4 separate regions of the Homo sapiens genome follow, and regions 2, 3 and 4 are each reported to be linked to region 1. The links are microRNA targets in miRTarBase. Many come from high-throughput screens and were not tested one by one. Region 1 holds a microRNA gene; each other region holds the end of a gene's coding sequence.

Region 1 (8,077 bases):
CCTCTGCTCCTGGGTTCAAGCAATTCTCCTGCCTCAGCCTCCCAAGTAGCTGGGATTACAAGTGCCGCCACCACGCCTGGCTAATTTTTTGTATTTTTGGTAGAGACGGGGTTTCACTATATTGGCCAGGCTGGTCTCAAACTCCTGACCTCATGATCCACCCGCCTAGGCCTCCCAGAGTGCTGGGATTACAGGCGTGAGCCACCGCACCCAGCCAATTTTTGTATTTTTAGTAGACATGGGGTTTTGCCATGTTGGCGAGGCTGGTCTCGAACTCCTGACCTCAGGTGATCCACCCACCTCGGCCTCCCAAAGCGCTAGGATTACAGATGTGAGCCACTGCGCCCGGCGCAAAATGTTTTCTCAAAACATATTTAATAACTTGGAAAAATGGTGTCAATATATAGTATTTTTCTTTTCTGAATTTAATTTTTTATGTAAAAATTTTATAAAAGGAATGCATTAATACATTCTCACAAAGATTCACCATATAATGTTAAGTGAAAAAGGGCAAATCAAGGGCAAAAGAAATATGCTTCCAATGTTGTTTTATTTCACTTTTGAACCAGGGTCTCATTCTGTCACCCAGGCTGGAATGAAGTGATGCATTCATGGCTCACTGCAGCCTCAACCTTCCAGACTCAAGAGATCCTCCTACCTCAGCCTTCCAAGTAGCTAGGACTACAGGCATGTGCCACTAGCCCTAGCTAATTTTTTTTTTTTTTTTTTTTTTTGAGATGGAGTCTTCCTCTGCCGCCCAGGCTGGAGTGCAGGGGTGTGATCTTGGCTCACTGCAACCTCTGCCTCCTGGGTTCAAGTGATTCTCCTCCTCAGCCTCCCAAGTAGCTAGGATGACCGGCATCCACCACCACACCTGGATAATTTTTGTATTTTTAGCCAGAAAGAGACAGGGTTTCACCATGTTGGCCAGACTGGTTTCAAACTCTTGGCCTCACGTGATCTGCCCACTCAGCCTCCCCAAGTGCAGGCTTGACCCACCTCGCCTGGCCTGCCCAGCTAATTTTTTTTTTAAGATGTGAACTTTTTCATTCTTCAAAAAGAGAATGTATTTTTACATAAATCTATAACAGAATTCAAATGTAGAAAAAATAAACTATATTCAGGGATAGAGTGCTCAGCACAGCACACCCCCTCCCCGGATGAGACTGCAGGAGCCTCGCCACCCCCAGGACACCCAACATCAGGGCAGCCACAGGCTGGCACATAGAGCTCCCTGTGTCTGTCACAACAGGCTGCAAATGCAAGGGGCCCAGACCCGAAGCATCAAAGACAAAAACCAACCCATTTCACTGTGGCAACTCACTTCTTGGCCTAGGTCACTCATTTGTACACCTACTCAGAAAGGGAGGCACAGGGAAACTGAGGGACATGCATCTCCAGATGCCTCGGATAATCCCCTACTCACTTCTGCCACTAGAGGACCCCCAGGAGAGCCCACCTGACAAACCCCAACTTCTTCCCTGGGCCAGTGCAACCAAAAACCTGCAGGATTCACCCAGGACTCCAGGCCCTGACAAGAGGCAGAGCTGGCTGCAGCTCGACTAATTAAAAAATTTTTTTTGTTGAGACAGGTTCTCTCGTGTTATCCTGGCTGGTCTTGAACTCCTAGCCTCAAACTTTCCTGCCACCTTCGCCTTCCAAAGCTCTGGCATGAGTGCCCAGCCTCCCAACTTATATATAAATACAGGCCGGGCGCAGTGGCTCACGCCTGTAATCCCAGCACTTTGGGAGGCCGATGCAGGCAGATCACGAGTTCAGGAGATTGAGATCATCCCGGCTAACACGGTGAAACCCCGTCTCCACTAAAAATACAAAAAATTAGCCGAGTGTGGTGGTGGGTGCCTGTAGTCCCAGCTACTAGGGAGGCTGAGGCAGGAGAATGGTGTGAACCCAGGAGGCGGAGCTTGCAGTGAGCCGAGATCACGCCACTGCACTCCGGCCTAGGTGACAGAGTGAGACTCCGTCTCACAAACACACACACACAACACACAAAAGTATAAATACACTGAAAAAAATAAACATAAGGAAATCCACCAACATGTTAACATGTTACATCTGGGTGGGAAGATTACTACAGATTATTATCTTCATCTTTATTTTTCTATGTTCTCCAATTTTTTTTCAAATGCTGCATTATTTTTATAAACAGAAGCAAGCTACAATATTGTAACAGAAATATTGAAGATTATATTTGAAAATATTCAAGGCTAAACAAAAGCAAGTTAGATATCACCTATGTGTCCGCAATCAGAAACCTTTGAGACTAAAATTTAGCCTTTTGGAAGCACCGTCCATCTTCCCCCAGACCCACCCCTGCCTCTTGGCAAAATCACAGCACCATGCTGTGACTGAGGGGTCGGTCTAAGAGAGACAGAGACTGATTTCTCTCTAGGAAAGGCTCATGCAGAGCTCTCTGCTTCCTTGGTTTCCAGAACTTCACCAGCCTTCTTGGCCTGAAGTTCCTTCTTCTGAAGTCAGGCATGGCTCTGCCAAGGGATACTTGGACAGTGATCCATGGGACTGGAGAAGACCCCTGCAATCCCTGCAGTTACCAGGTTACTTAATTAGCTGGCATTTAAGGGTCTGTAGGATCTGAACCAATCTTCCTTACAACTCCCATGTGTGCCAATCAAACAGTCTGTCGGCCATCTCCAAAGCCAGAAAGGGACAGTAATGAGTGAAGAGAGCTGGGTGTGATGCAATTGGGAAAGGTAAGGACTGTGGCAAACTGGAGTAAGCCCACACCTTCAAAACGAACGGCCACTTCTCAGTGCCAGTCTATTGCTACCTGGTGGGACCTTTCGATTTTTCAAGAGAATTGGAAAATCTGGATCTTTATGTGAAATCTCCTGATTTTAAAATAAATATTGGCAGGTAATTCACAAAACATATTTGGCCACTCTGCTGATCACAATTTGTGACTTGTCTTAGGAACACATTGAACTTTTTTCCCTCTGCACCTTTGCTTTTGCTATTCCCAATGCCAAGAACACTCCCCCACCCATCTAAGTCTAATGAACTCCATCTGTTCCGTCAGACCCAGCCAAAACACCACCTCTTCCGGAGCATCCCCGCAGCCAGAAGTGACATCTCCCTCACTGGGGCTGCACCACACATTTAGCTCTGTGCCTGTCTCATCCTATGCCCACAGTTGTTTCAGTAAGAGTCTTAGCTTTCCTGGTACAGAATGAGCTCCTGAAATATCCAGAAAACATTTGTGGAGCACCTGCTATGGTGCAGGAACCGTACTAAGCACTAGTGATACAGCCTAGAACAAGATGGATATGTCTTTGCCTTGATGCAGTACAGTCTAGTGTAGGGGGCAGATTTTAAATAAATAACTCCCTAGATACCTAATCCCAATTGTGATGAGTTTTATGGGGTTAAGAAAGTTTATAAAAGAGACTTAATCCAGGCAAAGGAGGATTAACCGAATCACGAGGTAGCTTGGGGAAGCATTAGCAGTAGGGCTCCCACTTAGGGCTGTACAGTTTACATGCTGCACAAAGCCTGGCAACAGAGCAAGACCCCGTCTCTAAAATTTAAAAAAAAAAAAATTGTAGAGTTGAGGTCTCGCTATGTTGCCCAGCCTGATCTCAAACTCCCGGCCTCAAGTGTTTCTCCCACTTGGCCTCCCAAAGTGTTGGAATTACAGGTGCGAGCCACTGTGCCCGACCCCTTTTTCTAATCTGCACAAAGGCATCGTATAGACTAGCAGAGGCAGCGTTTAGTTCACCCCTATCCAAAGCTGCTTTAAATAAACTTAGAATCTAAGTAGATACGGTGACTTCCCTATGTACATGCAGCCCAAAGAGATGTTCCCTGCTCCCCACTTTCTACGCTAAACCCTTAGACTTCTGAGATCAGGGAAGGCACCCCAAGGAAGTAACATAGGAGCTGAGACTGAAGGATAAGAAGGGGCCAGCCAGCTTGGAATATGAGGAACAGCATGTGCAAGGCCTCTGAGGGGAGAAGGTACCATGGCCAAAGGACCTAATAGGTGGCCGTTGTGGTGGAAGCATGGACAGAGGTAGGAGAGCATTAAGGGGTAGGCTGGGCAGTGACCACCCTGCATGGCTCAGAAGGCCACATTAAGGAGTGCAATTCTTTTTTTTTTTTTTCTGAGATGTTGTCTCACTCTGTCACCCAGGCTGGAGTGCAGTGGCGCGATCTCAGCTCACTGCAACCTCCACCCTCCGGGTTCAAGTGATTCTCCTGCCTCAGCCTCCTTAGTAGCTGGGATTACAGGTGCGCGTCACCATGCCCAGCTAATTTCTGTATTTTCAGTAGAGACGAAGTTTCACCATGTTGGTCAGGCTGGTGTCGAACTGCTGACCTTGTGATCTGCCCACCTCCACCTCACAAAGTGCTGAGATTACAGGCATGAGCCACCGCGCCCAGCCAAGGGGTACAATTCTTATCCTGAAATACCTTCCATATCCCTTCCATATCCCACTCCCTAACCACGTCATTTCTGGGTTTCACTGCCCATGAGAGAGTGCACAATGGTAGAAACTATCTTTACAGAGGGCCTGCCATGAGGCACAGACTGTGCTGGGGTCATACATTCATTCTGCCTTTTTTATGCTCCTAAGGAAGTATTATTTGATTTCAATGGAACAGATGAAAAAATGGAGGCACAGAGAGGATGAGCAGCTGGCCTAAGGTTAGCTGACTGTTAAGGGGTAGGCTGGGATCCACTGTGAAGTCCACTGTGGGACTTCAAACCCCTTCTCTTGGCCGTCATGCAGCAATGGTACCCATGAATAGACCGGAAGCGCAAGGAGTGCACACCCTTGCTACTCAAAGGCAGGAGGGTCTAGGGGCCTGCAACACTGGCATCACCTGGAAGTTTGTCAGAAATGCAGGATCTTGGGTTCGTTCCATCCAGCCCTACTGAATCAGAATCTACAATTTTTTTGTGTGTGTGTGTGAAAGGGTCTCACTGTGTTGCCCAGGCTAGAGTATAGGGGCACAAACACAGCTTACTATAGTCCCCACCTCCTGAGTTCAAGGGATCCTCCTGCCTAAGCCTCCCAAGTAGCTGGCACAGGCCACCACGCCCAACTAATTTTTAATTTTTTTGTAGAGATAGGGATCTCACCATGTTGCCCAGGCTGGTCTCAAATTTCCTGGGCTCAAGCAATTATCCTGCCTTGGCCTCCCAAAGTGCTGGGATTACAGGTGTGAGCCATCGTGCCACGTCAGAATCTACACTTTACAGGAATCATGTACACATTAGGAGCTGAGAAGCACTAGACTAGAGAATAATCCAAGCAAAGTGGCATATTGCCTTTGTAGCCCTTATGCAACAGTGTCTCATAAGCCAGGTTTCCAATGACCCGAAAACAACTTCTTATAACCAAATATACCAGATTGGCCAACTGTTCCATTCATCTATCCACCCTAGTTTTGTCATCTATTTCCACTCCAAGGGAAAGACTGTGAGAAGCTACCATCAACTCCAAAGACGAGGTGCTGTATGCTCCAAATCATCTCCCATTTGAGGTCTACTCTGATCCCCAGATAATTTTCTGGAACACACTTTTCACAAAAGAATTCCCTATGTTAGCCTGCATACCAAAGGAGTCAGAATGGTTTGGTAGAAAAGATTAGTGGGTGAGGAAAAGCAGGGTTCCCCTTCAGCTTTAAGGCCACATGTGACTTTGGGAAATGCCCTACCCTCACTTCCTAATCCCCATGTAAAATATGAATGGGGTGGACTAGACTAGGAATCATTCCATATGAGGCCTGGCAGGAAACACAAAGGAAGTTCAGTGGCCTAGGTGAAACAGTAGGGAGTAGCGGAGACTGTGGCAAACTAGAGGGCGAGCAGGTAGGGAGGGTGCAATGCCCTGACTACACAAAGGTATCCCCACTCAGAAATAGGCTAGAGTTATCATGGGAAATACGTTGACATATATTCTAATTTTTTGAGTTGGGAATCTGATTTTCCAAGAAATGAGTGATGTTTAAGTATTGGCAACTATTAATAGTTAAAACTTCAGAACAAACAAACACAACACTGTGTGAGCCAAATAAATATCAGGTGCCGGCCAGATCTGTCCGTGGGCCGTCAGTTTGACTTGCCTGGCCCAGATGCCACCCTAATGTTAGGTATTAATTTGCATGTGCGGCTGAGAATGCTGCAAAGCGGCTCCTGTAAGGATGGGGGTTGAGGGGTAAGATCTGTGCCTTTCCGGGGCCCGTCGCCCGTCCCCCACCGCGGCCCGGGCCCCTTTCGGTGCCCCCTCCCCAGGCCTCTCCGGGAAAGGGCCCAGACGGTGGTGCCGGGTCGCACGGCGTCGCTTGCTTCACACCCTCCCTACCTGCTCGCCTGCTCTCCCAGCACGGCCGGCAGCGCCGCAGCAGCGATGACTCAGCCTCTGGCGGCGGAGCTGGAGGGAGGCGGAGGGGGCGAGGGGGAGGACGACTGGCAGGGCGGGGTAAAAGGAGGCGGGTGGAATGGAGGGAGGAGGGGAGAAAGAAAGAGGAAAAGGAGAGAGAAGTGGGATGGGGGAGGAGAAAGAGGAAAGGGGGAGAGGAGACGGGGGAGAGGCGGAGGTGGGAGGGGGCAGTTCGAAGCCCCAGCTCCCGCCTCCTCCCGCGGCCGGCTGAGGTTGGGCTGGGCTGGGGGAGGACAGTGGGGGAACAGCGGAGAGGGTAGGGCAGGGGCGGAGAAAGGAGGGTGGCGTGCTGCGCCCCTTCCCCTCCCCCACTTCGAGAGTCCCGTGGGTACACGTGGTTCATTGCCACACCCACGGACCCACCCCTGCCTCTGTGGGATGGGAGGGGCCGGGGAGGGTGCCCGGGAATGCGGCTTCGGACTCTGAACCTTTAGTGAGCGCCTTCCAGCGGAGGCCTGGGGGACTGGGCAGTCAAAAAGGGACAGAGGGGCCGGGCGCGGTGGCTCACGCCTGCAATCCCAGCACTTTGGGAGGCCGAGGCGGCCGGATCACCTGAGGTCAGGAGTTCAAGACCAGCCTGGCCAACATGGCGAAACCCCGTCTCTACTAAAAATACAAAAATTAGCTGGGCGTGGTGGCGCGCGCCTGAAGTCCCAGCTACTTGGGAGGCTGAGGCAGGAGAATCACTTGAACCTGGGAGGCGGAGGCTACAGTGAGGCAAGATCGTGCCACTGCATTCCAGCCTGGGCAACCCTGTCTCAAAAAAAAAAAGGGGGACAGAGAGAGGTGAGGGCTTGCAGGGGAGAAAGCAAATCCACAAGGCGTATCCGCAAGTGGAAATTTAAAGGGAGAAATGAGCCTACTCGATGCATTTTTGCTAGTCTACACAAGTAGCTATAACACAAGGTTGAATTTGGAAGTCACACCAAGGAAGTTTCCTTAGCAATGTTTTGTAATATAAATGATGAATGAATAAAATGTACTATGGGAGTACATCTGTGTGTATAGAAGAGGACAAATGGAATTTTTTTAAATGTCTTTTTGTATGTCTGTTACATATGTGTGTTTGGGTGAATATATAGGAGTGTATGTGTCATTGAATAATGTGTATATATGTATGCCTTATGTATGTAAGCACATTAATAGCTGTATATGAGGTCGTGTGCCAAGAATACATTTCTGTGTATATGGACAGGTGTGTATCTTTATATGCCTAGGTGTTAACTGTATAAGACCTATGGGCTTTCCTGAGTTTGTTTTAAATATGCATATTTATGTGAATTTATGAGTTTGTGAATGTGACAGCATATCCTTGGGGGGTATGTGTGGGGGTTTTTTGTGTGTGCCAGTATTGTATAAATGTGTATGTGTATACGGGACTCCTGTCTGAGATCGTGTTATGCTTGGATATTTGTGTGTGTGCATGTGTATGGTAATACATTTGTGATCAGTCTGTGACCAGGGCTACAGGGCATCTTGAGGTTGCATGTGTGTGTCTGTGTGTATAATTGAGAATGTATGTCTGTTTTTCAGAGTCTTTATGGATATGATTGTGTCTAGCATCTCTGTAGCCACCCTGTCGATCCATTTGTGATAAGGGCTATGTGATTCTTAAGGGTTGGGCTGGTCAAGGCGGCTCCTTGGAGGAA
Region 2 (8,077 bases), not on the chromosome of region 1:
CAACGAGGACTGCAGCAAAACGCAGCCCTGCGACCACACCAAGGGGCTGGAATGCAACTTCGGCGCCAGCTCCACCGCTCTGAAGGGGATCTGCAGAGGTAAGATGCTTGTGGTTTGGCCCCTTTAAAAAAAATACTAGTCCCCATAGTCCAGAAGTTTAGTAATTCTGAGACCATGTATGGTGATGCTTTGTTGTTGGTAGCTTGGCAGAAAGGCACATGATTTCAGCAGTCTGGAATGCAATTCAGTGTGTCTGGGCCCAACGAAAGCGCATACGGAAAAGTGATTCCTGACTAACTTATTGTTCTGGTCTGGAGTCTCCGGGGAATTGTAGGGAACTTTACCATAAATTGAATTTAACAGCAGAAAATATGTATGAGTTTCAGGCGGTGGTTTGGAATCTTAACTTTATCCCCTTCTACCTTTCTCTTTTGGTGATCTTTGCAGCTCAGTCAGAGGGCAGACCCTGTGAATATAACTCCAGAATCTACCAAAACGGGGAAAGTTTCCAGCCCAACTGTAAACATCAGTGCACATGTATTGATGGCGCCGTGGGCTGCATTCCTCTGTGTCCCCAAGAACTATCTCTCCCCAACTTGGGCTGTCCCAACCCTCGGCTGGTCAAAGTTACCGGGCAGTGCTGCGAGGAGTGGGTCTGTGACGAGGATAGTATCAAGGACCCCATGGAGGACCAGGACGGCCTCCTTGGCAAGGAGCTGGGATTCGATGCCTCCGAGGTGGAGTTGACGAGAAACAATGAATTGATTGCAGTTGGAAAAGGCAGCTCACTGAAGCGGCTCCCTGGTAAGTGGAGACTGAGCACTTCAGACACTGTACTGAGATGCATTTCTGGTCTAAATCTTTGTAGAAATGAGTGCTTGAGCCTGTTTGTGTCGGTATGCCTCTGAGAAGTCTTCCCTCTTATATGTCTCTAGTTTTTGGAATGGAGCCTCGCATCCTATACAACCCTTTACAAGGCCAGAAATGTATTGTTCAAACAACTTCATGGTCCCAGTGCTCAAAGACCTGTGGAACTGGTATCTCCACACGAGTTACCAATGACAACCCTGAGTGCCGCCTTGTGAAAGAAACCCGGATTTGTGAGGTGCGGCCTTGTGGACAGCCAGTGTACAGCAGCCTGAAAGTAAGTTCCTTCAGGGACGTGTAGACTGTTGCCTGGCAGGTGGGTGGGATGTGAACATCTTTTTGAAGAAAGAGAAATATCACCCCTAACTTTCCTTCTCTCCTTTCTCTTACAGAAGGGCAAGAAATGCAGCAAGACCAAGAAATCCCCCGAACCAGTCAGGTTTACTTACGCTGGATGTTTGAGTGTGAAGAAATACCGGCCCAAGTACTGCGGTTCCTGCGTGGACGGCCGATGCTGCACGCCCCAGCTGACCAGGACTGTGAAGATGCGGTTCCGCTGCGAAGATGGGGAGACATTTTCCAAGAACGTCATGATGATCCAGTCCTGCAAATGCAACTACAACTGCCCGCATGCCAATGAAGCAGCGTTTCCCTTCTACAGGCTGTTCAATGACATTCACAAATTTAGGGACTAAATGCTACCTGGGTTTCCAGGGCACACCTAGACAAACAAGGGAGAAGAGTGTCAGAATCAGAATCATGGAGAAAATGGGCGGGGGTGGTGTGGGTGATGGGACTCATTGTAGAAAGGAAGCCTTGCTCATTCTTGAGGAGCATTAAGGTATTTCGAAACTGCCAAGGGTGCTGGTGCGGATGGACACTAATGCAGCCACGATTGGAGAATACTTTGCTTCATAGTATTGGAGCACATGTTACTGCTTCATTTTGGAGCTTGTGGAGTTGATGACTTTCTGTTTTCTGTTTGTAAATTATTTGCTAAGCATATTTTCTCTAGGCTTTTTTCCTTTTGGGGTTCTACAGTCGTAAAAGAGATAATAAGATTAGTTGGACAGTTTAAAGCTTTTATTCGTCCTTTGACAAAAGTAAATGGGAGGGCATTCCATCCCTTCCTGAAGGGGGACACTCCATGAGTGTCTGTGAGAGGCAGCTATCTGCACTCTAAACTGCAAACAGAAATCAGGTGTTTTAAGACTGAATGTTTTATTTATCAAAATGTAGCTTTTGGGGAGGGAGGGGAAATGTAATACTGGAATAATTTGTAAATGATTTTAATTTTATATTCAGTGAAAAGATTTTATTTATGGAATTAACCATTTAATAAAGAAATATTTACCTAATATCTGAGTGTATGCCATTCGGTATTTTTAGAGGTGCTCCAAAGTCATTAGGAACAACCTAGCTCACGTACTCAATTATTCAAACAGGACTTATTGGGATACAGCAGTGAATTAAGCTATTAAAATAAGATAATGATTGCTTTTATACCTTCAGTAGAGAAAAGTCTTTGCATATAAAGTAATGTTTAAAAAACATGTATTGAACACGACATTGTATGAAGCACAATAAAGATTCTGAAGCTAAATTTGTGATTTAAGAAAACAGCGCTTCATGTTCATCAGAATATAAAGCCTAAGGGTCTCCATCACTCTGTGAGATGGCTATAATAATTTATTATTTTAATCACCAGGTTAGTGGGCATGCCACTTTAGTAGAGTAGAGAAACCCTTTAATGAAAAGGGGTAGTCCATAACTCAGGCTGCCCACATCCAGACCCATGGGCAAGATTGAATATAATTAATGTATTCTAAAGACTTGCTTGTTTATAACTTTATATTTTCCCAATACCGTTCCTAAAAATTAGAACTACTTAGAAATTTACCCTTGGCTGTTATGAGGAAAAATCTGAGTCTATAGGAGTCAGTTTGTTTTCACTAAATGAGCTTGAAGCATGACTTGTGTTAATCCTAATAAGCCGGTGATTAGGTAAACATGCTGTTAAATGCAAAGGAATGCAAGGAATTTCAACTACTTTTCCAATAGCGTGAGGGCCAAGCTACCCCATCCCCCTTTCCTTTTTATAATATACGTTATATTGATGGGGGAGGGAGCAGTTATATAGAGTTGGCTATTCAGAAGGTCAAAGGTCCAGAGCATTCCTAAAAGAAAGGGACCCAAATCATAGGTCTAGGAGAGGTTGAGAAGGCTGTGTCAATGTTTGTGAAAATGTCAGTAGTCTGTTTCAGAAGCATCTTCATCTTTAGAAAGCGCTGACAATAAACCTTTTATAGGGAGAAGTTTTCCTTTCATCATCACTGTTGGCTCCTGTTCAAATCCATAGTGAAATATTTCAGTCCGCACTTAGTTAAGAGAGTACTTGAGTTTTTAGGCAGAAGAGAAAGTGCTTTTAAAAGGAATGGAGGAGGACAGCTCCTGGGATCCTGAAGGGATTTTTCCAAGTAGATTAAATAAGATCCATACTTTAATGAAGACCCACAGAAAAATACTGCCTAAGAAATGGTTTTAAAGCCTTATGGAAATGCATAGAGGTTAATATAAATGCACTAGTAAAATCTATGGCCAAAAGCCTTCACTTCTGATTTTGACTTGCCTGAAATATTACAGCTTGTGCCTTCTGAATAGTCAGGTTTCTTGCCTGAGACATTCAAATGTTAAGGTATTTGAGAATTTAAACATCAGCTGGCCCAGTCGTGGATGCAGTTAAACTTGTCAGTGCAATGTAACGTGTGAAACATAATAAAGGTGTGAGGCTTTTGTGGTGCAATCTTGTTGAACAGACATCTAAATCCATAGGCAAGATTTACACATTCCCAAGCATCAACCCTGAAGTATTGCTCTCCAACACTGGAGTCCAACAAATTGCTTCTTATGCAGAGATCAAGGAGCAATATTTTACAGATCCTTTCAGTGTGCAGGGAAGTAGTATTTGTCCAAATAAGCTCAAATGTGAAACAGAACCTAGTATGGGAAAACACTGAATCTTTGGGTTATTAATTTCATCCTAGTAAATATAATGAGGGTGATTGAAAGTGCCAATTCCATTTACAATAAGTGTGTTCAATTAATAAAGAAGATGAATACAAGCAAATTATGTCTTTTGTTTAGCTATAGAAAAACCTGAAGAAATTAAAAGTAGTGGAGAATAAAATTATGATATTTAGAACACGTAAGTTTTACCTACATCCAGAATGGAGCTCTGCCCACTTTAAATATTGAGAAAACAAACCAAAAATTATGCATCTGCATATATGAAATAGAAGTTACATATAGAAATATTCATTATAATATATATGTACCTTCCCATGCACAGTAAAGACCTTGGGTTGTTCTTGCTTTTCAATCCAAAAGATCCTGGTGGTCTTGAGCTATTTTTTGGTAGAGATTTTAGAACTGAGAGAGTGATCTCAGAATCTTAGGCATTCCACGAATTTTAAGAAATACTCTATGGGACATTGAGCAGCACAGCAAGTAGTCTCACTATGACTATTTTTTCATATGAACATATGTGTTGTCTGCTCCACAAAGAGATGCAACTGAGTCAAAATTAGCAAAGCATATTTTAGAGTTATGTTTTCCAACAGAGGGAACAGACTTGGTTTGTTCACAACCTCTTCTTGCAGCCTTCTGGCACTACTTGAAAGTCAGTTGAGCAATAGCAGTGGTTCAGTATGACCACAGTACAGAGCAAAGCTATGCTCTGGGCAGAATGGCAGGTGATACAGTGGAAAGAATCCCATGGAATCATGTCTTTTAGCACCAGCTCTGCCATGAATTCACTAGGTGACTCTGGGCAAGTTTCTGTTTCACTCCCTCATGTTAAAGTAGGAAAATAGCTTTCAGCATTTTTGTCACCCCAAAAACCCTTTCTCATACACCCACTTCGGTACATTGGCTCTCATACCTTAAAACTTTTATCTCCTCAAGTAACCACATGTGTGAACTGAAAACTGCTCAAGGCTTTCTGTCATCAAATGCACTTGTTTCCATGAAGCGTTTGAAAATGTATTGTGGCTAGACCCCTTCCCCCCCCTTTACTTTCTAAAGCACCCTTGGTTAGAGGACACAGCAATTCCTGGATCTCAGAGTCTACAGGTCCATACTTTAACCTCACTGTATAGCCCTATCCAGGCCTCATTAACTCCTTGCCCTACACAACTGATGCTTTAAAACAAAGCATATTCTGAAACATGACAATGATCCATTTGTCCTACAAATAGATTAGATATAGCTGTGACTTTCTCCATTGGTGGTGGGCAATATTCATCCATGTAATCTTATAAACTACAATTAATAAATACTCAGATGCATTTGTTACTGCTTTGCTGTTTCCATATATTCTGTTCATATATTCTGAATCTACCCCTTTCTCATCTCCAGAGCAAACCTCTAGATGAGACCACCATCATCCCTTGTCTGAATTACCAGAATGGCCTCCTCATTTATAGCATATTGTATTTTCCAAAGGTGGCTGCAGCAATATCTCCCACTCCATGTGCCCTTCTGCAATGTGCCTCTGTTGCTCCCCCATTAATGGGGGGGTCTATTTCTCCACCCTCTTGGATGTGGGTGAGCTCTTGACCTGTGAATGTGGAGGAAGCAATGCAATGTGGTACAAGTTCCACATGCAGTACTGGCTAGGAGTTCCTCCATCTTTTCTCTTAGAAATGAGCTTCCATGTAAGAAGTACAACTACTCTGAGACCAGCAGACTGTGAGAAGCTGAAGCCACATGGATAGGCCTTAGAGAATGAGTTGCCATGTGGAGAAAGAGAAAGGACCAGGAGCACTTGGGCATTACACCTGTCCATGAAGAAACCATCTTGGAAGTGAATCCTCCAGCCTCAGCCACCCCAGCTGATGTCTTGTGAATCAGAGATGAGCTGCCCAGCTGAGTCCTTCCCATAGTTCCTGACCCACGAAATAGTGGGCAAACCAATACGGTAATTATAAAGAAATAAGTTTTGGGTTTGTTTGTTACATAGCAATAGATAACCAAAATATCATTGGTTTCCATTCTTCCCCTTTTACATTTTTAAACTGACTCTTTAAAAATGTAAATCGGACTATATGGACCCTTGGGTTAAAGGCTCCAATGGTGTCCCACTGCTGTCAAAGTAGAGATTTAGCTTCTTACTTGGCACCCAGGTCCTGGACCCTGCCTACTTCTTACCATTCACCCTCATTCACTATACTTCCACTTGCCTTTTCTTCTTCTTTGAAAAAGCCAAGCAATTTCCCCTGCAGGGCCTTTGCACTAGCGTTCCTCTGCCTCAAATGCCCCTTCCCCTGACCTAGGCTTCTTCTTGGCATGTAGGTCTCAGCACAAATGCTACCTTCTTAGCAACCTTTCTTCACCACCCAGTCTAAATTATTAATAGTTCCTTACACCAAGAAGTTTTTTAAGGGGCAGAGCAAAAAGGTGGAATAAAAATCCCCAACAATCATCCCCACTGCAGGAACACCAAATTTAACAACTACCTACACAAAAAAGAACCTTTACAAGAACCAGAATTCAGATGAGCACTCACAACCAGTTTCTAACTTCATATCGTTGAAAGAGGCACTGAAGAGTGTAGGAAAGACAGTCTTGAATCACTGCCACCACCCCTCCCCCATTCTCTGGCAGCAGCCACATGGTGCAGAGAATCTGTGCTCTTGGGAGAGGGAGACTACAGCAACTAGGAGACTGCCTGGAACGCAGTGCTGCCCTGTCACAGCAGAGATGCCCACCTATGGAGGTAGCATTCAGACCTGTCCTAGCCAGAGGAGAATCACCCATCCCAGTGGTAAGAGCTGGAGTTCTGGCAAGCCTTACCACCATGGGCTGAAGTGCCTTGGGGACGTAAATAAACTTAAAAGGCAGTCTCGGCTGTAAGGACTGCAAGTCCTGGCACTGAGCTGGGCTCAGAGCAGGTGGATTTTAAGGGCATGTGACTTACTGAGATACCAGTTGGGGCAGCTAAGGGAGAGCTTGCATCACCCTTCCCCCAAACCCAGGCAGCACAGCTTGCGGCTCCAAAAGAGACCCCTACCTCCCACTTGAGGAGAAGAGAGGGAAGAATAAGGAGGACTTTGTCTTGCATCTTGGATACCAGCTCAGCCACAGTGGGATAGGGCACAGGTCACAGTTGTGAGGCCCCTATTCCAAGTTCTAGCTTGCCAACCACATTTCTAGACACATGTTGGGCCAGAAGGGAACCTGCTACCTTCAAGATAAGGACTCGGAGCTGGCAAGAACTGTTACCTGCTGACTAAAGAGCCCCCGGGCCCTGAATAACCAGCAGTGATACCCAGATAGAATGCTGTGGGCCTTGGGTGAGACTTTGAGATGTGATGACTTCAGGTAAGACTCAGCACATTTCCAGCTATTGTGACTATGATGAGAGACTCCTTCTGCTTGAGAAAAACAGATGAAAAAGCAAAGGGGACCTTGTATTGCATCACAGGTACCAGCTCAGCCACAGTGGAGTATAATACCAAGAGGGGTCTTGGGGCCCCAATTCCAGGCCTTGGGTCTTGAATGGCACTTCTGGACCTGCCCTGGGCCAGAGAAGAGCCCACTGGCCTGAAAGGTGAATCCCAGGCCTGGCACCATTCACCACTAGCTGACTGAAGAGCCCTTAGGCCTGAGAAGAATATCAGTGGTAGCTTGGCAATACTCCTCTTGGGTCCGTGGTGGTGGTGGCTACAGGGTGAGGCTCCTCTTCCTCTGAAAAGGGGATGGAAGAGTGGGAAGGACTGTGTCTCATGGTTTGAGTGCTAGCTTAGGCACTGTAGTGTAAAGCACCAGATAGACTTCTAAGGTTGTTGACTCGAGTCCCTGGATCCTGGATGGCATCTCTGGACCTTCCCAGGGCCTGGGGGAACTTGCTGCCCTGAAGGGAAGGACACAAACCTGGCTGCTTTACCACCTGCTGATTGTAGAGCCCTAGGGCTTTGACTCAACACAGATGGTACTAGGTAGTGGTTACAGGGGGCCTTGGGTGAGACCCAGTGCTGTGTTGTCTTCAAGTCTGACCTGGCACAGCTCCAGAGGTGGTGGCTGCAGGGGTGTTTGTGTCACCCTACCCCCCAAGCCCCAGGTGGCTCAGCACACACAGAGAGAGACTCCATTTGTTTGGGAGAAAGTAAGGGAAGATAACAAAAGTCTCTGCCTAGTAACCCAGAGAATT
Region 3 (8,077 bases), not on the chromosome of region 1:
TCATAAATCTAACTAACTCCTATTTGAAAGAGATGACTGCATTTATGCTTGGTGGTCTTCATGTTACAATGAACATGTCTTTAGTTTCTTATGATTTGTATATGCCACTTGTTTACAAGATAGCCTAGGGTTTTCCATCTATTTTTTTATCCAGAGGACCTCAGCTTACATCTCTCTATTAACATCTATGCCTAATGAGAGAAGGTTGCTTCCCTGTGACTTATACAAAATCAGTGACCAGCTGTGGCATTAATGGAAGAGGGGCCAGAATGCATCTCGGTAATATATCAGTGTTCTTTTTCTTGTAACTTAGTTTTTAAATTTCTCGCCCATGTATACCTTTCGAGGATCTCCAAAAGCCCATGTATATACTCCTTCCAAGTTTCTCTCACTGGCCATAGACCATTAACGCATCAAGAATGGAAAATGAAGGTAGCCATAGGCCAAAAAATACCTACTCCCTGAGTGCTCTGCATTCTGATCCAGGGATAGCAATGATCTCAATCAAAAGCAAATTCCTCGCAACTTCTCTAAGATCTCCTCTCCCTTCCTGTACAATATAGGACTATTCAGCTCTTAACTTGATGGAGAAGAAAAAATGAGGGCTTTGGTGATGAGTTGAATCCTCACTACAGTTTGTTAACTGTGTGAACCTTGATCATATCACCACCTCTGCATTTGTTTCTGTATCTATAAAACATGCATGATAACCCATGTAGAGCCATTGCAAGGATTAAAAACATTATAAGTAGGTCGAGTGCAGTGGCTCATGCCTGTAATCCCAGCATTTAGGGAGGCTGAGGCAGGAGGATTACTTGAAGCCAGGAGTTCAAGACCAGCCTGGACAACATAGTGAGACTCCATCTCTACAAAAAAAGTTAAAAAAATCAGATGGGGCTGGGCGCGGTAGCTCACGCCTGTAATCCCAGCACTTTGGGAGGTCAAGGCGGACGGATCACGAGGTCAAGAGATTGAGACCATTCTGGCCAAAATGGTGAAACCCTGTCTCTACTAAAAGTACAAAAATTAGCTGGGCGTGGTGGCGCTTGCTACCTGTAATCCCGGCTACTTGGGAGGCTGAGGCAAGAGAATTGCTTGAACCTGGGAGGCGGAGGTTGCAGTGAGCCGAAATCACACCACTGCACTCCAGCCTGACGACACAGCGAGACTCCATCTCAAAACAAAAACAAAAACAAATTCAGATGGATGTGGTGGTGTGTGCCTGTAGCCCTACCTACTCACGAGGCTGAGGCAGTAGGGTTGCTTGAGCTCAGGAGTTCAAGGTTTTAGTAAGCTATGATGGCACCACTGTATTACAGCCTTGGTGGCAGAACAAGACCCTGTCTAAAAAAAAAAAAACAGTATAAGTAAAATGCACTGTGCCTGGCTCATTGTAAGCACTTTGTAAATGATAGTTTTTATTAACATGCATTCATCAGTAAAAAGAGATTGTATAGGATTTCCAGAATGTTTTTTTTCCATTTTTATTCAGTGATTCAGGTGAAACCTGGGCTTTTGAGTCAGTTTGTATTCAAATCTCTGCTCTATCGTTTACTTGCTGTGTAACATTGGGCAAATGAACCTTTCTGTGCCTCAGTTACATCATCTGCAAAATAAGGAATATAACCTATCTTATAATGTTGTTTTCAATTCTAAAAGAATTATTTTTAGTACCTACTCTCTGCCAAGCATTAAGGTGCTAACAGTGTCTGCGTCTGAGGATTAAATGTAGAACTATATGAAGTACTCCCAACAATGTCCAGGCTTATGTTAAAAACTTAATAGATGGCTCAGACTTGATCTGTTTCTTAGAATGAGAGAATTAGTTATTTCTGGCTTTTATATAAAATGTTTAAATGTCTGTAATTTAGTATCTTGTTGCGTCTCTAATATTCCCAAGAGGCTCAAGGAGAGGAACTGTACAGCTATTTTCTGAATATACCTAGGCCCACTCTGATCCTCTGCTATTATTTTTCCAGTGTCACTGCAAAGATAAAAGCCATTGAAGCAAAACTGAAAATGATGGCGGAAAATCCTGATGCAGAGTATCCAGCAGCGCCTGTTTATTCCTACTTTAAGCCACCAGATAAAAAAAGGACTACTCCATATTCTAGAACAGCATGGAAATCTCGAAGATGATGGTTGTGAATTACTGTAGCAGCAAAAGCAAATTGGTCTCCACACCTAAAATCGTCTGCCTGTGTACTTTGTAGATGTGAATGGTACTATTCAACGGAGCACAATCACATGTTAGCATTTGGTAACATAATGTTTTTGGATGTTCTTATGGATGTTTCTTCCCTAAACTATGTATGGAATTGAGCATCATCCAGAATAAATAGCGTTGTATCCCAAATTGTGATTTGAACCCTGGGATGCTCTAATTGGCTGGTTGGTTTGGATTTGTAACTCCAGAAACATTCTATAGTGTGCCAGAGCAAAAGGCAAATACACAAAATATTATTTAAATCAGGAAACTAAAAATATTAACATCTATTAAAAAATTGAGCATTTTTCTACGCTCGTGTGTCTTTTACAACATAAAGAAAAAGTAAAAGGCAGGGAGGGAAGTGAGAGACAGATTTTAAATCATGTTCAGAACTGTTGTTCCAGAATTTACTACGGCAATCCCTCCAACTGGACTGAAAAAGAGAAAGTTCTTGGCAAAAAGGAGCTGATTCTTTGAACAAATGTTGTAGTAATCTGTTTAAGAATTATGCTTATTGTTTCAAAATCCCAACTAGGAAAACATGGTGTATATCTTAAAATTGTTTGTGTTGACAAAACTAGAATCAAATTTAACATTTTATACCACAACACAAGTTCTATTTGGAAATTGAACTTTTATTCTATAGCAACCATTTTTTTCAAATCTAAATAACCATGCCTTCTATAATAACAAATGTTGCTATTATCATGGGACTTTTAAAATTACATTTATTGCATGGGATTGTTTTTATAGCATGAGAATGTTCTGTTTGGAATTATATCATGGTCAGTCTAAATAGAAAAAGCAAAATTTCTTTGAAAACCTAAACATTGCTATATTGGTCACTATCAAACATACAATTTTCTAATAATTGTGTAGCGGTCTAAGTGGAAGAGATTGCATTATCTTGTGCAGGACGAGGAGAGGACATGCAGTGGGCACAGAAAGTCAATGGAACAGATGCCACTGTGGCACCAAGACTGTAATGACTCTGTGTGGTAGGTAGTTTTAAAGGACTGCATGCCTTGGAAATGATTCTTCACTTGGAGAACATACTTGCCTCTAGATATGTTTGTCACTCTAAGCATCCTGAATATAACAATAGAGAAAGATAAGTCAACCAACAGATTTAGGGATGTGTTTCTTCAGCACATTTTGGTCATTTTGATGCCAAGTTTGACATACTGTTTAATTGGGCAGCACCTTTGCTCCTTTACCAGGTATGTATCACTTTGTTACTCCAGGTGCCATTCTTGGTGATGACAGAATGTTTATCACTATCGTTGTTAGCAAGAGGAAGCTTTCAATATAGGAACTTAACATCTTCCCATGAGTATAAATGAATTTAAGACATTTGAATCAAAACTTCAGTAGAGGGAGGTTTTAGAATTCATAAAACTGGTTTAAGGAAATTCTTTTTACTTTTCCCAAGGTTAATCTTTTTAAATATCTCTAGACATCAAATACTTTCTGTATGTATTAGCTGTGTCTGTCTATGATGCAAGTAACTCTCCTCCTATTTGGGGGATAGTTCAGAGAGGTAGGAGCATTATCTCCCATTTTTCTGGTGACTTCTTGGAGTATAGAATTCACCATTTTATCCGTAAGTCTTCAAAGGATTATGGTGGACTAGAACTTACATAGTGCAAAATAGTCTTCTATTTTTAATAGGAACTTAGAAAAAACTTAGAATTATATATAGAGTTGTTTCCTTTAGAAACCAGAGCTATTTATTTGTATTTAAAGCACTGTTTATTATTTGTACTGATTCTTATCCCTCTGTGTGAATAAATGTAAGACGGTGTCCGTGTGGTTATATCTTCTCTCGTTCACTTACTGGCATAGACTGCAGTTCTCTGACAGGCTTGTTTCCACTCAGGACTCTGGCCAGCATGTCCACGTGGGGTGCTTCTTCTAAGTGCCTTCTCTGCAGAGGGTTCTGGCTAGAGAGTCAAACTGAGAGGCAACTCTCTTTACCCTTTATGCCTGCCTACCTCTGTTGTTAGAGATGAGAATAGAGACCAGCTGTTTCCATTGCAAATGTCACTATTTGAAAAGAAGTTGTTAATGGAAATCTCTGCAAGTATCGTACTGTGTTTAGTCTCTCGTGGTAGAGATTTCAAAAGAAGAAATGTATGTATCCTAAATATGCTGAAAGCAGTCTGATGAAAGGTTTTTAAATTTCAGGTGTTAACTTGGTCAACTCTTTGTTAGGAGGTTGTCTGTACTTTAAGTAAAATTATTCTTTGGTTTACTGGTTATTTTGGTTTGCTAAAATTATGTCACTTATAATTTTGATTTATATACAAGAGTGAAGAATTGAAGGAAATACTGAGGAGAGACGTATGAACTATTTTCTTCATCTCAATTCCTATTTTATCAAATGCAAAATGTAATCCTAACCAGTTGATTTTCTATAATTGGTATCTTAGTACTGGGGAGGAGTATCACATGAGGAAAGATTTTTCAAAGCATGTCAGCTGAGGCACAAGAATCGCTTGAACCCAGGAGGTAGAGGTTCCAGTGAGCCGAGATTGTGCCACTGCACTCCAGCCTGGGCAACAGAGTGAGACACCGTCTCAAAAAAAACAAAAACAAAACAGGTCAAAAATCAGTTGCACAAGTTGTATGAAACCAGGTATTCTGCAGCTCTGTCTCTTGTTTATTAAGATATGCACAGTTTCTGAATCAACAAATATATCTGTGATTCTTTTATACTACTACATAAAAGAACAGGAGTAATTCTTGCCTTATAAATTAAATGTCAAACATTTCCTATATGTAATCATTTGTTCCTAAAATATGATTTAGTCCCAGCATGCTTATCCCTGTTTTCTCTTTTTCTCTCCAGCTCCTATCTAGTTCTTCAACAAATCCTGTCAACTCTACCTTCCAAATGCCTCTTGAATCCAGCCATCTCACCACCTCCAACACTACCACCATTTTTCTTAAAGCCACCATCATCTCTTCCCTGGACTATTACAATACCTTCCTAATTATCTCCCTGCCTCTGCTATTGATTCTTTAGGGTCCGTTTTCCACACAGTAGCCAAAGCAATTTTTAAAAAAATTATTTTAAAATGTGATTCTCTTCTTTGTGGCTTTCCATCACAGCCTAGAAAAAATTGAAAGATCTGTAAGGCCCTAATGACCTGTCCTTCACTACGTGTCTGACCCTATAGCCTACTGTTCTCCCCTTGTGCGGTGTACTGCAGCCACGTTGGCCTTCTTGCTATTCTTTGAATACAAGGGAGCTTCTACTTCAAGGCATTTACATTGGCTGTTGCCTTAGCTTAGAACGCTCTTTCTCCAGATAGCCGCAGAGCCCGCTCTCTCACCTGACTCATGTCTCTGCTCAAATGTTAATGATCAAGAGGCAGTCCCCGGCCTCCCTCTTAAAATTACAACCTGTCACTCTCCAATCCTTTCCTCACGATTTTCTCAAAAGCACTTACCGCTAACCAACATTATATCTAAATTTTTTTTTGTCTCTTTTTATTGGAATGTAAGTTTCATGTAAGCAGGAACTGTATATCACTGCTATACCCTCAGCATTTAAAACAATGGCTGTACATCATACATACTCAATAAATATTTGTTGGATAAACTACAAGAATTCTGGTATTTGAGAGCCAAAGGGCCTTAAGAGACCATCTCATATAGCCCCCTCATTGTCCAGATGGGGAAAACGGGAACCCAGAGAGACAAAGCGATTTGGCCAGGGTCACCTGGTTAATGGGAGAGCTTTAGGTAGAACCCAGGCCTGCAAACATCTAGTCCAGTGTTCAGCAAACTGGCCTCTGCCTCCTAATTTTGTATAGCCTACAAGTTAAGAATGATTTTTTTTTCATTTTCGAGTGGTTGAGAAAAAAAGTAAACAAAATATATATACTATATTGTGACATGAAAATGATACGAAATTCAAATCTCAGTGTATGTTAATAACTATTAGAACACAACCATGCCCAGGCATTTACATGTGGCTGTTTTCCCCATATAATAGAAGAGTTGAATAGTTGGCAATGAAGACTGTGGCCTACAAAACCTGAAATATATACTATCGGTCCCTTTACAGGAAAAATTTGCCAAACCCTACTCTAAACAATATTCCATGACTGGAAATGTGTTTTCTAAAATTCTCGTATTAATGCAGAGAATAAAAGCAACAGATGTCAGAATGATGTGCACCGAATATTGTTTCTTAGTCAATGTCTCTGACCCCTTACACATCTTTTGGGATAGAGAACTGGCTGTGCCAGCCCTAGTGGCATCACTGTACTGCTTAAGGCTATCAATGTGGGCTAAATCCTCTCATTGTCCCTGTGAGGAAACTAAGGCCGTAAGAACTTGGGCTTCAGATTTAGACTTGTAGCCCCAGCTATGTAAGCAGATTTGTCAGGACTCCCAGCTCAAGTGACAAAAACACTACTCCAACTCCCTTGCGGTAGAACATGTATTGGTTCATGTAACTGAGAAGTCCAGGTGTTCAGTGAAATGGTTAGGATTCTGTCTATCTCTTGATTGTGTTTTCCTCTGGGTTGGTTTCATTCTCAAGCAGGCTCTTCCTTGTGGTCTCTGGAGAGACCTCTTGAATCCCAGGTTAAAAAGAAAAAAACAAAAACCCAAAAAAAACAGATCTGTCAGAATTTATCCGAGTACGCAGGTCTGTGTCTTCTTTCCTCTGCATTCAATCTTAAACTTGGCTAAGATTACTGATTATGCTGAATGACATTTAATTTTTACATGCCCTGTGACTTTTCTAAACTAGAAGCATAATTTTAAATTTTCACCTTAAAAAACAAGTTATGTGTTCCTCTTCTGAAAACAGGCCTATCCCATTTGAGAAGCTTTCTGGTGGGCGACCTCATCAGAAGGAAGGTTACTCATTCCTGAAACAGATGGCATTTGCCATGTGTGATGCGTGGAGGGTGTAAAGATGATGAGGCAGGAGCCCTGTGCACTGTGATGTACCGTGATAAAGGGACGACTCAGCAGCTTCAAGACACCAGAGGATGGGAACCAGGCTGGGAATGGGACATGGTGACATAGGTGATTTCCCCCCGAGCTGAGCGGCCAAACGATGTTTAATAAGCTGCGTAAACGGTTTAAGGGGGACGTTGAACAAAGAACAAAGCCCCAAAGTGAGAGATATTAAGATTTAATCTAAGTAAGGAGTTAAGATACTTCCAAATACCTAGAACCATAGGATAAGCCAGGTTTATGAGGCCTTCTACAAATCAGTCCCACTAGGCATTCTCCTAACCAGACTAAACTATTTGTGCACCCTAAACATGATGGACTCTCCTGGATTCCCCTGTCCTTGTACAAGATGTGCCTTCTACCTGGGAAGTCCCTTCTGCCCACCCCCACCACTTGTCTAACAGATATTTTCCCACCCATGCTCATTCCTATAAGGCAGTTAATTGCCTTTCTGCGTCTTAACGACCTGGGTCTGTTTTAGCACTTATCACTACATATAATGTGCTTTATAATTTAAAAAACGATTCTCACCAAAAGTAAGATGAGTTTCAGGGGCAAATTACCTCCCAGAAAGCAAACAAGCCAACTCTCTTCTCATAGATGGGGTAAATTCCAGCTGCTGTAAAATCTCCACTTCCAAGGCTTCCGCTGCTATCCCTACCCTGATATCTCTGAAATTCCTTCTCTTAGATCCAGGCTCTCTTCTGAGCTGCAGAGCCATATGTCCCGTTCACTCCTGGGCACTTCCACTTGAATATTCCCTTGGTACATTGACTCAAAACCGAGCTCATGGATCCCTCTTGCCCTTCCTCAATTGCTCCCATGTTCTGTGTCACTGGGAAAAATAAAATAAACTATTAGAAACCTGAGAGTTATCTTGAACATTTT
Region 4 (8,077 bases), not on the chromosome of region 1:
GAATTACTGCTTCAAAGTCGTGCATTTATCTAGATAAATATTAAATCATTTGTTGGGCACCATGATTCTTAGACCAAGGGTTTAGACCAGCACCCCTAGAGTCTGTCTACTTACGAAAATGACCTGCTTCAGTCATGACAGAATAAGCTTTTAACTGACAAAGGGGAGTTAATACCCAGTCTTTGGGACATCCCCAGAACAGAAATGGTCATCTCTCCTTCTATCCTCTGAGCTAGTTTTCTCCCCTTCTATCCTCTGAGTCTCAGCTGAGGGATGGTCTAGGAAGATAAGGAATGAGTGGGAGAATTGGAAAGACCCTTTACATGGAGTACCCACACCATGTGTACAGACCCAGACAATTGTGGGGAAGGTGGGCAATATCATTTTGGCTTTCTTTGACCTTCCGAGTGAGATGTTCTCTTTTTTCCCCTCATGCACTGGATGTACAAGCTTGAGGCAGTGGTTCTCAATGGATAAAGGGGATGTACCACCGGTATCTAGTGGGTAGAGGCCAGGGATGTCCTCAACAGCACAGCCATTATTGTCACTTGCTCAGTTGTTGTTGTAAACCCTCAGAGTCAGCTGAACTATTTTAGGCCAAACATACTGTTTTTGCAAAGTATTTTTCATTAATAAATCACACAATGCACAGGGCAGTCTCTCCCCAACCCCAACAAAGAATTATCAGCCCAAGATACCAAGAGTGCCAAAGTTGAATAAATGTATAAGAAAAGGCATTCCACATTAGATCTCAGAGATCAAACAAAGGCAGCTTAACTGAAGTGAAGGTAACATTTTAAGAAAAGTTGGAGAAACAAAAAAAAAGCAAGGCACAGCGTCTCACACCTGTAATTCCAGCACTTTGGGAGGCCAAGATGGGAGGATGACTTGAGTCCAGCAGTTCGAGACCAGCCTGGGCAACACAGTGAGATCCCGTCTCTATTTTTTTTAAAAAGAAAAGCTGCGTGAGGTTTTGGTATGGTGGCTCTAGGAGTATAGTCATCACAAAGGGAGTATACGTTTGCCATATATTGCTATATATTAGGGAGCCCTTCTTTTGTAGGTGTGTGTATAGTGGATGAGAGATTATAGTGGAGGGAGGTAGAGGTATGGCAACATCCATGAGACTGTTTCATTTGCCCAGGTTGGAGGTATGAGATTTGATTTTGATGTATATTAAGAATTTTAAGAAATGGAATCAAAAGCACAGCTTGATTCATTCTTTCCCTTGTATGTATGCTCTTGGAGGAGTAGGGAATTGGGCTACACAGCTAGGCATGGCTCTCTGGGAAGGAGAATGGTTTTCTGAAGATGCTCAGTCTTTGGGTTTCTTTTCTTTCCCCAGGAACTTCAAGGAGTGTCCAGCAGTTTCTGGCTATGTGTGACAGGGGTGAAACTTCCCAAGGGGCCAAGTACACAGGAAGGACTTTGAACTACCAGAGCCTCCCCCATCGCTCCAGAACAGACAACTCCTGGGCACCCTGGTCAGAGACCAACCAGCATATTGGGACCAGATTCCTGACTACTCCAGGGTGCAATCCTCAACTAACCTACACTGCCACACTACCAGAAAGAAGCAAGGGCCTTCAGGTTCCTCACACTCAGTCCTGGAGTGATCTTTTCCATTCACCCTCCCACCCTCCCATTGTTCATCCTGTGTACCCACCATCTAGCAGTCTTCATGTACCCCTGAGGTCAGCTTGGAATTCAGATCCTGTTCCAGGGTCCCGAACCCCTGGTCCTCGAAGAGTAGATATGCCCCCAGATGATGACTGGAGGCAAAGCAGTTATGCCTCCCACTCTGGACACAGGAGAACAGTGGGAGAGGGGTTTCTGTTTGTTCTATCAGATGCTCCCAGAAGAGAGCAGATCAGGGCTAGAGTCCTGCAGCACAGTCAATGGTAAAGGTTATTCCTTTCCTTTCCTGGAGCTACACCTTTCTTTGTAAAACTGTACTGTGGGCCGGGCGCGGTGGCTCACACCTGTAATCCCAGCACTTTGGGAGGCTGAGGCGGGTGGATCACGAGGTCAGGAGATTGAGACCATCCTGGCCAACATGGTGAAACCCCGTCTCTACCAAAATACAAAAAATTAGCCAGGCGTGACGGTGCGTGCCTGTAGTCCCAACTACTCGGAAGGCTGAGGCAGGAGAATTGCTTGAACCCGGGAGGCAGAGGTTGCAGTGAGCCGAGATCGCACCACTGCACTCCAGCTTGGCAATAGAGTGAGACTCCATCTCAAAAAACAAAACAAAACAACAACAAAATAAACTACTGTGGCAGCGTTGGTACCCTGCATCACTGCCATGGTTGTGCTATTCTCATCTCAACATAGAATTGGTGGGTTCTCCTAAGGGTGTCAGGAACCTCTAAAAAGATGTGATTCTTTGGGAGGGGATATTTGAAATTCCAACTTCCATTCCCCCTAGCAAAAGGAAGCAGCTGCTGTTTAAGGGTTTTATCTGAGCCACTTTAAAGATGAATCCATGGTATTACTCTGGATACTAGCCATTCCTTAGGATTTTAAGGTCACATTTTATTCCTGGATGCTTTATGTCCCCACCTCCACCTGAGCCCTCATCCTCTGTTCCCTACTATACTCCCAACTTCTACTCTTTGTTTTATCCACCTATCCCTATTACCTGACCCTTTGTCTTCCCTGTCTCCCATCCTTGGGGGGACATGTAGCCCTGTGGTCATGGTTCTGATGACATCATCAGGGCAGCCCCCCTGCCCAGGTATTATGGCCTGTCAGCATTCCCTGTGCCCTCCAAACCTTAGGCCTAGAATGCGGAGCTGCCAACATAACATTCACCCTTTTGAACAGATGGAGTCAGGCACACTAACACAGCCTTCTGTCCTCAATAACACAGCCATTATTGCCACTTGCTCAGTCGTCAATGTAAACCCTCAGAGTCAGCTGAACTATTTTAGGCCAAACATACTGTTTTTGTAAAGTATTTTTCATTAATAAATCTATAAGACAGTTCTATTTAATTCCTTGTCATTCTTCCCTTTGTATGCTCTTGCTTTCTTTGTATTGGGGCTGGAAGTCTGGATAAATATATGAAGTGGCTTTTGACTGAGTGGAAGTGAGGAGCCAGAGACGAGTTGAAGGATATACAATCAAGGTGGGAATCAATGGGTCCTAAAATAGGGTGCCTTTCCTTTCTAGTATTGCTGCTAGGATGTTTCCCATCCCTTTCCTGACAGAGCATTCAGTACTCAGTACATTATACACTTCCTTCCTCCCCTCCTTAGGAAGATTTTCTGGGGATTCAAGCTCTTCTTACAGACTCACTCCTGATCAATGTACTCCAGGTGCCTTCCCTCTATCTTATAAGTTTGTGACGTGCCTCCTGTCCCTTCCTTCCTCTCCTTCCGTGGGGGCCTCTCCCTTTCCCTTCCCCTGTGGTGTTATGGCCCTTCCATGCCAGAAAGATCCATTTTCACCTGTGCCTCACTCCCGAGACTCTTCCCTCTAAAAAATAGCTTGTGGGTTCCCTTTTTGGAAAAAATCCATTGTTGGGTCTTTCCCTTCCTCTTTTCCTGGGGTCTCAGGATAGAAATTGACACAAAGAAGAGGTAGAAAGGTACTCCTTGGACCTTCGGACTACTACTTACTTACCACCATGCATTATGAACAGATTCTGAGCACATGTATTATTGAGCAGGAGGATGGGCAGGAATTGGTTGTTCCATCCCACTTGGATCCTGCACCATCAAGATATATAGAGCTTAGTGGATATGCTGGTCCCTGTCCATGATTCAACATATCTCCTGGTGTCGTGGACACACTCATCTAATAATTTTTGATGAACAGTCAGTTCTTGCCCCTCTACCCCCTTTCCCATGAGTGTCAGTCACCGTGGTCTCTATAAAGGTTCCATAAGTCACCTGGGCCCAGATTCTGTGCATGTGCAGAAATAAGGAATTAATTTCCAATTCCCTATTTACTCCTCTGCCTTCCAGGAGGAGGTTGTATCCTTTTCAGGTGAATTCTTCAGATTCTTTGCACATCTCTTGGTGTCATCCCCTTTATTCCCCTTACCTGTTTTGACAAACTATGGCGCCTAAATTGCTCTAGCTGCAGTCTTATTCTGTGCTTTCAGACTCTTGACAATTCCAGACTCTAAACACAAAGGCCAGAATTCTCTTTCAAACTCCATTTTGGATGGTCCCTTCTCCACTCTAGAACCTACAATGCTTCCTCTATTCTCTGGTCCCCTACCAACCCTTCAGTATTCAGATCTGGTAGCTAAATCGTTATACATTTCTCTATTAGTAGGAGATCCTGAGGTTTAATCACGTCTTCTCAGTTTACTGGGAATGCCATGAGAGCGGGTGTGTTTCCTCGCAGTCGTTCGATCGCAGCACCTCCTCATTCTTCATTCTGCATGCAAAGAATTTTAACCTGATCCCTTGGCCTCGTCCTGTTTCTCTCCTAGCTTCAGTAATTTTGCCCAAGTCCCTAGAGCCTACCCCGCCCCCACCCCCGCACGCGCAGTGCATGCCGGTCTTAGCCCCTCTGTAGGGAAAGAGGGTCCGCCATGTTCCCCGGCGGCGCCGCCGCTTGGCTCTGGTAGCCGCCGCCCCCGCCCCCAACCCCGCCCGGCCCAGAGCCTAGCCGAGCCCCGGGCCCAGCATGGCCGCCCCGGAGCCGGCCCGGGCTGCACCGCCCCCACCCCCGCCCCCGCCGCCCCCTCCCGGGGCTGACCGCGTCGTCAAAGGTGAGAGGTGGACGAAACCCTGGGGGCCTGGCCTGAAGAGCTAGCTGTGTGTGAGGGCGGGCGGGAGACCGTCCCCTCGGGAGTGGGCCCGGAAGGGCGGGCGAGTGACTGGCTGCCTCCCTTGGGGAGTGGCCCCTGGGCGGGCCCCTGCTGGGCAGGGCTGAGTCGGTGGCAGTGGTTCCGCGGTCTCCCGGTTGCTTTCAGGCCGGGGCGGAGGTTTTGCTTCCGTGGCTTCCTAGCCCAAGGGGTGAGGCTGTTAGCTGCAGTGAGCCCGTTTTCTCTTCACTCGGCCTGTCAAAGCGGCGCAGGGGCCGCGATTAGCTTCCTGCCCCGCGACAGCTGCACTTCTGGCTTGCCGGGGCGAACCGAGGGGCTCGGAGACCTTCAGCCACGCGAGGCCCGCCAGTGAGCAGTCAGAAATCACCTCGGCTTTGGCCCACGCCTGCTCCCCGGTGACAGTCGTCCGCCCTATCCGCGTCTAGCTGGCGACAACCGCAGGGGTTCACTTTTGGCCGTCAGGTGCCACCCGGAGCAGAAATTAGGGGAACCTTGTGGGATTGGATCACGGTGAAGGGTCGGGGCAGGAATTGGAAGGCCAGCCTTTATAGTGCAGAAAGGGAGAAAAAGCAGCATAAACGAAAAAAAAAATTCTTGTGGATAGCAAGTATTTACTTAGAAAACCATCAACACTTTGGTCAAAAGGAGTTACCCCTCCCTTACAAACACACACCCACACATTCATCCTAGACGAAAAAGTTAAATGTTTCTCAGCCAGGGCAGAATTTATGGATGTTTACCCACAACAGGTCAGCAGATTAATTTAAAATAGAGAAATTGAGGGCTAATTGAGAGTTGCTTAAGATTCCAAGCTTCCTGGGAGAGCCTACCAACCTCAAACACTGCTGTGGAGGTGAAAAACAATTGAAATGATTCTCTTTACCATGTAGCTTGATTGATAAATTGAAATCGTAGAATGAACTTTTCCTTATTTGTATTGTATTTATTTTTAAAATATAGGTACTTTTGTTTTCATTCAGCTTCTCAAATACACTGGCACAGTATTTAAACACCGTTAGCCTACTTTTTGAAATCTGACTCATATGTTTCCATTAAAATATTTAAAAACAAGGAAACCTTTTTTCTTTTTTTTTTTTAATTAAAAATTTTCAACCTGAGCCTTCTTCGGTTCTTAAAAGAATAATACTAATTTGGCCTGGCGTGGTGGCTCACATCTGTAATCCCAGCACTTTCGGATGCTGAGGCAGGCGGATCGCTTGAACTCAGGAGTTGGAGACCAGCCTGGGCAACATGGCGAAACCTTTTCTCTACCAAAAATACAAAAAATAAAAATTAGCCGGGCATGGTGGCGCGCCCCTGTAGTCCCAGCGGATCGGGAGGCTGAGGCACGAGAATCACTGGAGCCCGAGAGGCAGAAGTTGCAGTGAGCCGAGATTTGCGCCAGTGTGCTCCAACCTGGACGACAGAGCCAGACCCTGTCTCCAAAAACAAAAACAAAAACAAAAACAAAACACTGATTTGCACCTAGGCTTAAGTTAGTAGTATATCCAGTTGGGCCAGGCATTGGAATGAGCTGAATAACGAGTTTATGGAATCCTTAATACAGAGAAATCTTAAAAAAAAAATAGTAATGCAGACATTCATTCTATCAAGAAATCCTGGAGTTTTGTGGGGGTGGGAACGGGACATTGGCTACCTCTTCATTTTCTGACTGTATTTCTGTGTTGTGTGTTCATTTCCCTGGGCACTTTTCACCAGACTGTTAGATGGGGTAACCAATCACATTCCTGAACAATGAGTTTATGCTATCCTTACGTTTGTGAATCTTCTTATTCCTTGTCATATATATGGTAATGTTTTTTCTGTACTGCTTTAATGCAGTGAAAATAAGATTCCAAACATAAGGCAGATTCCTTAGGGGTGAGTTGTGAGTCCAAGGCAGTCATATTTGCAGGTTATTGGTGTGGAATAAAAGCCATTTGATTTAGATAAATAGGAAAGGAGCTTGTTAATATAGAAAATTATAGTTAAATAAAGCTTATGGTTATCATATTTCTGGTGCTTCATTGTGCCCTCTTCATAGAGACAACTTTCATTTCTTTATGGAATTTGTTAACCAGTTGGAATTCCTGTATGGATTATATGTTTTAAAATGGTGTGTAACAGACTAATTTGCACTGCTCATGGAGTCTCCTGCATTTACTGGGAAATTCACCTTTCTTACAGATCCAGAAATTCACTTTTAAATTTCATCTTCAGGATTCTTCCTTGTCTTTTATTCAGTAATTATACTATAATGTGATACCTGATATTAGAGAATACTGGTTGCCTGATGATAAATGATGTGAGTTCAGCTTAAGTTTAACTTGTTAAAATCCAAATTTCTTTTAAGTCCACAATGTGGTGGTAGTTTTGTATCGATACATTTTCATAGTAGTGATATTATGGAGACTGTCTGTTGGCATTGAATGCAAGTAGTCTTTTTCTCCCTGGAATTTTTTTTTTTTTTTTGAGACGGAGTTTCACTCTTGTTGCCCAAGTGGAGTGCAGTGGCGCGATCTCTACTCACTGCAACCTCTGCCTCCTGGGTTCAAGCGATTCTCCTGCCTCAGCCTCCCGAGTAGCTGGGATTATAGGTGCGCGCCACCATGCCCGGTTAATTTTTTGTATTTTTTAGCAGAGACGGGGTTTCACCATGTTGGCCAGGCTGGTCTCAAACTCCTGACCTCATGATCCTCCCACCGTGGCCTCCCAAAGTGTTGGGATTACAGGCGTGAGCCACCGCGCCCGGCCTGCCTCCCTGGAACTTCTTAGTGTCAAAATTTTATACTCCATGCTTGTAGTCATAAGGCCTACATTTTATGGTCATGTAGGTTTTTAAGGGTGTATAGGTCTTTCTGTGTTTAAGATCAGATACCTGAAATTCACTTTTTGTGAAGTTTGGGAGCTTGGAATACTGTAGGTGATTCATGAGTAAATGTGATGAGCTTGTCACTAAAATTATTAGTGGTAATTCCATGTCATTGATTATGGGTCATTAGGTTTTTGGTTGATTAAATTCAGTTCTGAGCCTACTCCAGCTGCTGGCTCAAGTCAAATTCTTCCCCTGTTTGAAAGTTGATCTAACCCACCTGATTAAGCAAGATGGTATATACCCTTTTAATTATATTCTATTAAGCATTCTTTAGCTATGTAGGAAATAAGAAAGTGGAAAAAAATTAGGAAAAATATCTAACCGTATCTGCATGTGTGCTTTCTTACCACATCAGCAAAGCTGGTATAGGTAATTGAAGCACAAAATCCTGAATTTATATATATTGCTTTCCCTCC

What was found. The annotated mature microRNA hsa-miR-1303 reads UUUAGAGACGGGGUCUUGCUCU and lies in region 1 at 3,540-3,561, opposite strand. An mRNA with a match to its seed (bases 2 to 7 or 8) in the 3' UTR can be bound and repressed. Matches are read on the target gene's strand: a 7mer-m8 pairs with bases 2 to 8, a 7mer-A1 pairs with bases 2 to 7 and ends in A, and an 8mer does both.
Region 2: miRTarBase lists CCN1 as a target of hsa-miR-1303. Seed matches in the 3' UTR shown: 7mer-A1 at 2,045-2,051.
Region 3: the mRNA of RBM18 is a reported target of hsa-miR-1303. Seed matches in the 3' UTR shown: 7mer-A1 at 6,305-6,311.
Region 4: miRTarBase lists USP54 as a target of hsa-miR-1303. Seed matches in the 3' UTR shown: 7mer-A1 at 2,367-2,373.

The regions. Positions count from the first base shown.
Region 1 is chr5:154,681,311-154,689,387 of GRCh38, reverse strand. MIR1303 (microRNA 1303) reads right to left here and starts at 3,612; the gene lies at 3,527-3,612. It also overlaps a transcript of LARP1 not described here. RefSeq lists silencers at 6,120-6,599, 6,640-6,839.
Region 2 is chr1:85,581,481-85,589,557 of GRCh38, forward strand. CCN1 (cellular communication network factor 1) reads left to right here. Exons shown (of 5, transcript NM_001554.5): 2 at 1-98; 3 at 448-804; 4 at 936-1,144; 5 at 1,260-2,470. The coding sequence ends at 1,562. Among named protein-coding and RNA genes, the nearest start is that of CCN1, 4.8 kb to the left of the region's middle. RefSeq lists a silencer at 1 and an enhancer at 418-939.
Region 3 is chr9:122,235,946-122,244,022 of GRCh38, reverse strand. RBM18 (RNA binding motif protein 18) reads left to right here. Exons shown (of 6, transcript NM_033117.4): 6 at 1,980-6,401. The coding sequence ends at 2,139. Among named protein-coding and RNA genes, the nearest start is that of LHX6, 11 kb to the right of the region's middle. RefSeq lists a silencer at 6,487-6,687.
Region 4 is chr10:73,492,457-73,500,533 of GRCh38, reverse strand. It overlaps USP54 (ubiquitin specific peptidase 54), which reads left to right. Exons shown (of 24, transcript NM_001391956.1): 24 at 1,346-2,996. The coding sequence ends at 1,905. It overlaps PPP3CB (protein phosphatase 3 catalytic subunit beta), which reads left to right and starts at 4,510. Exons shown (of 14, transcript NM_021132.4): 1 at 4,510-4,729. The coding sequence starts at 4,645. It overlaps PPP3CB-AS1 (PPP3CB antisense RNA 1), which reads right to left and starts at 4,782. Exons shown (of 5, transcript NR_132104.1): 1 at 4,717-4,782; 2 at 4,051-4,392; 3 at 847-939. RefSeq lists enhancers at 4,304-4,493, 4,984-5,443 and a silencer at 4,574-4,923.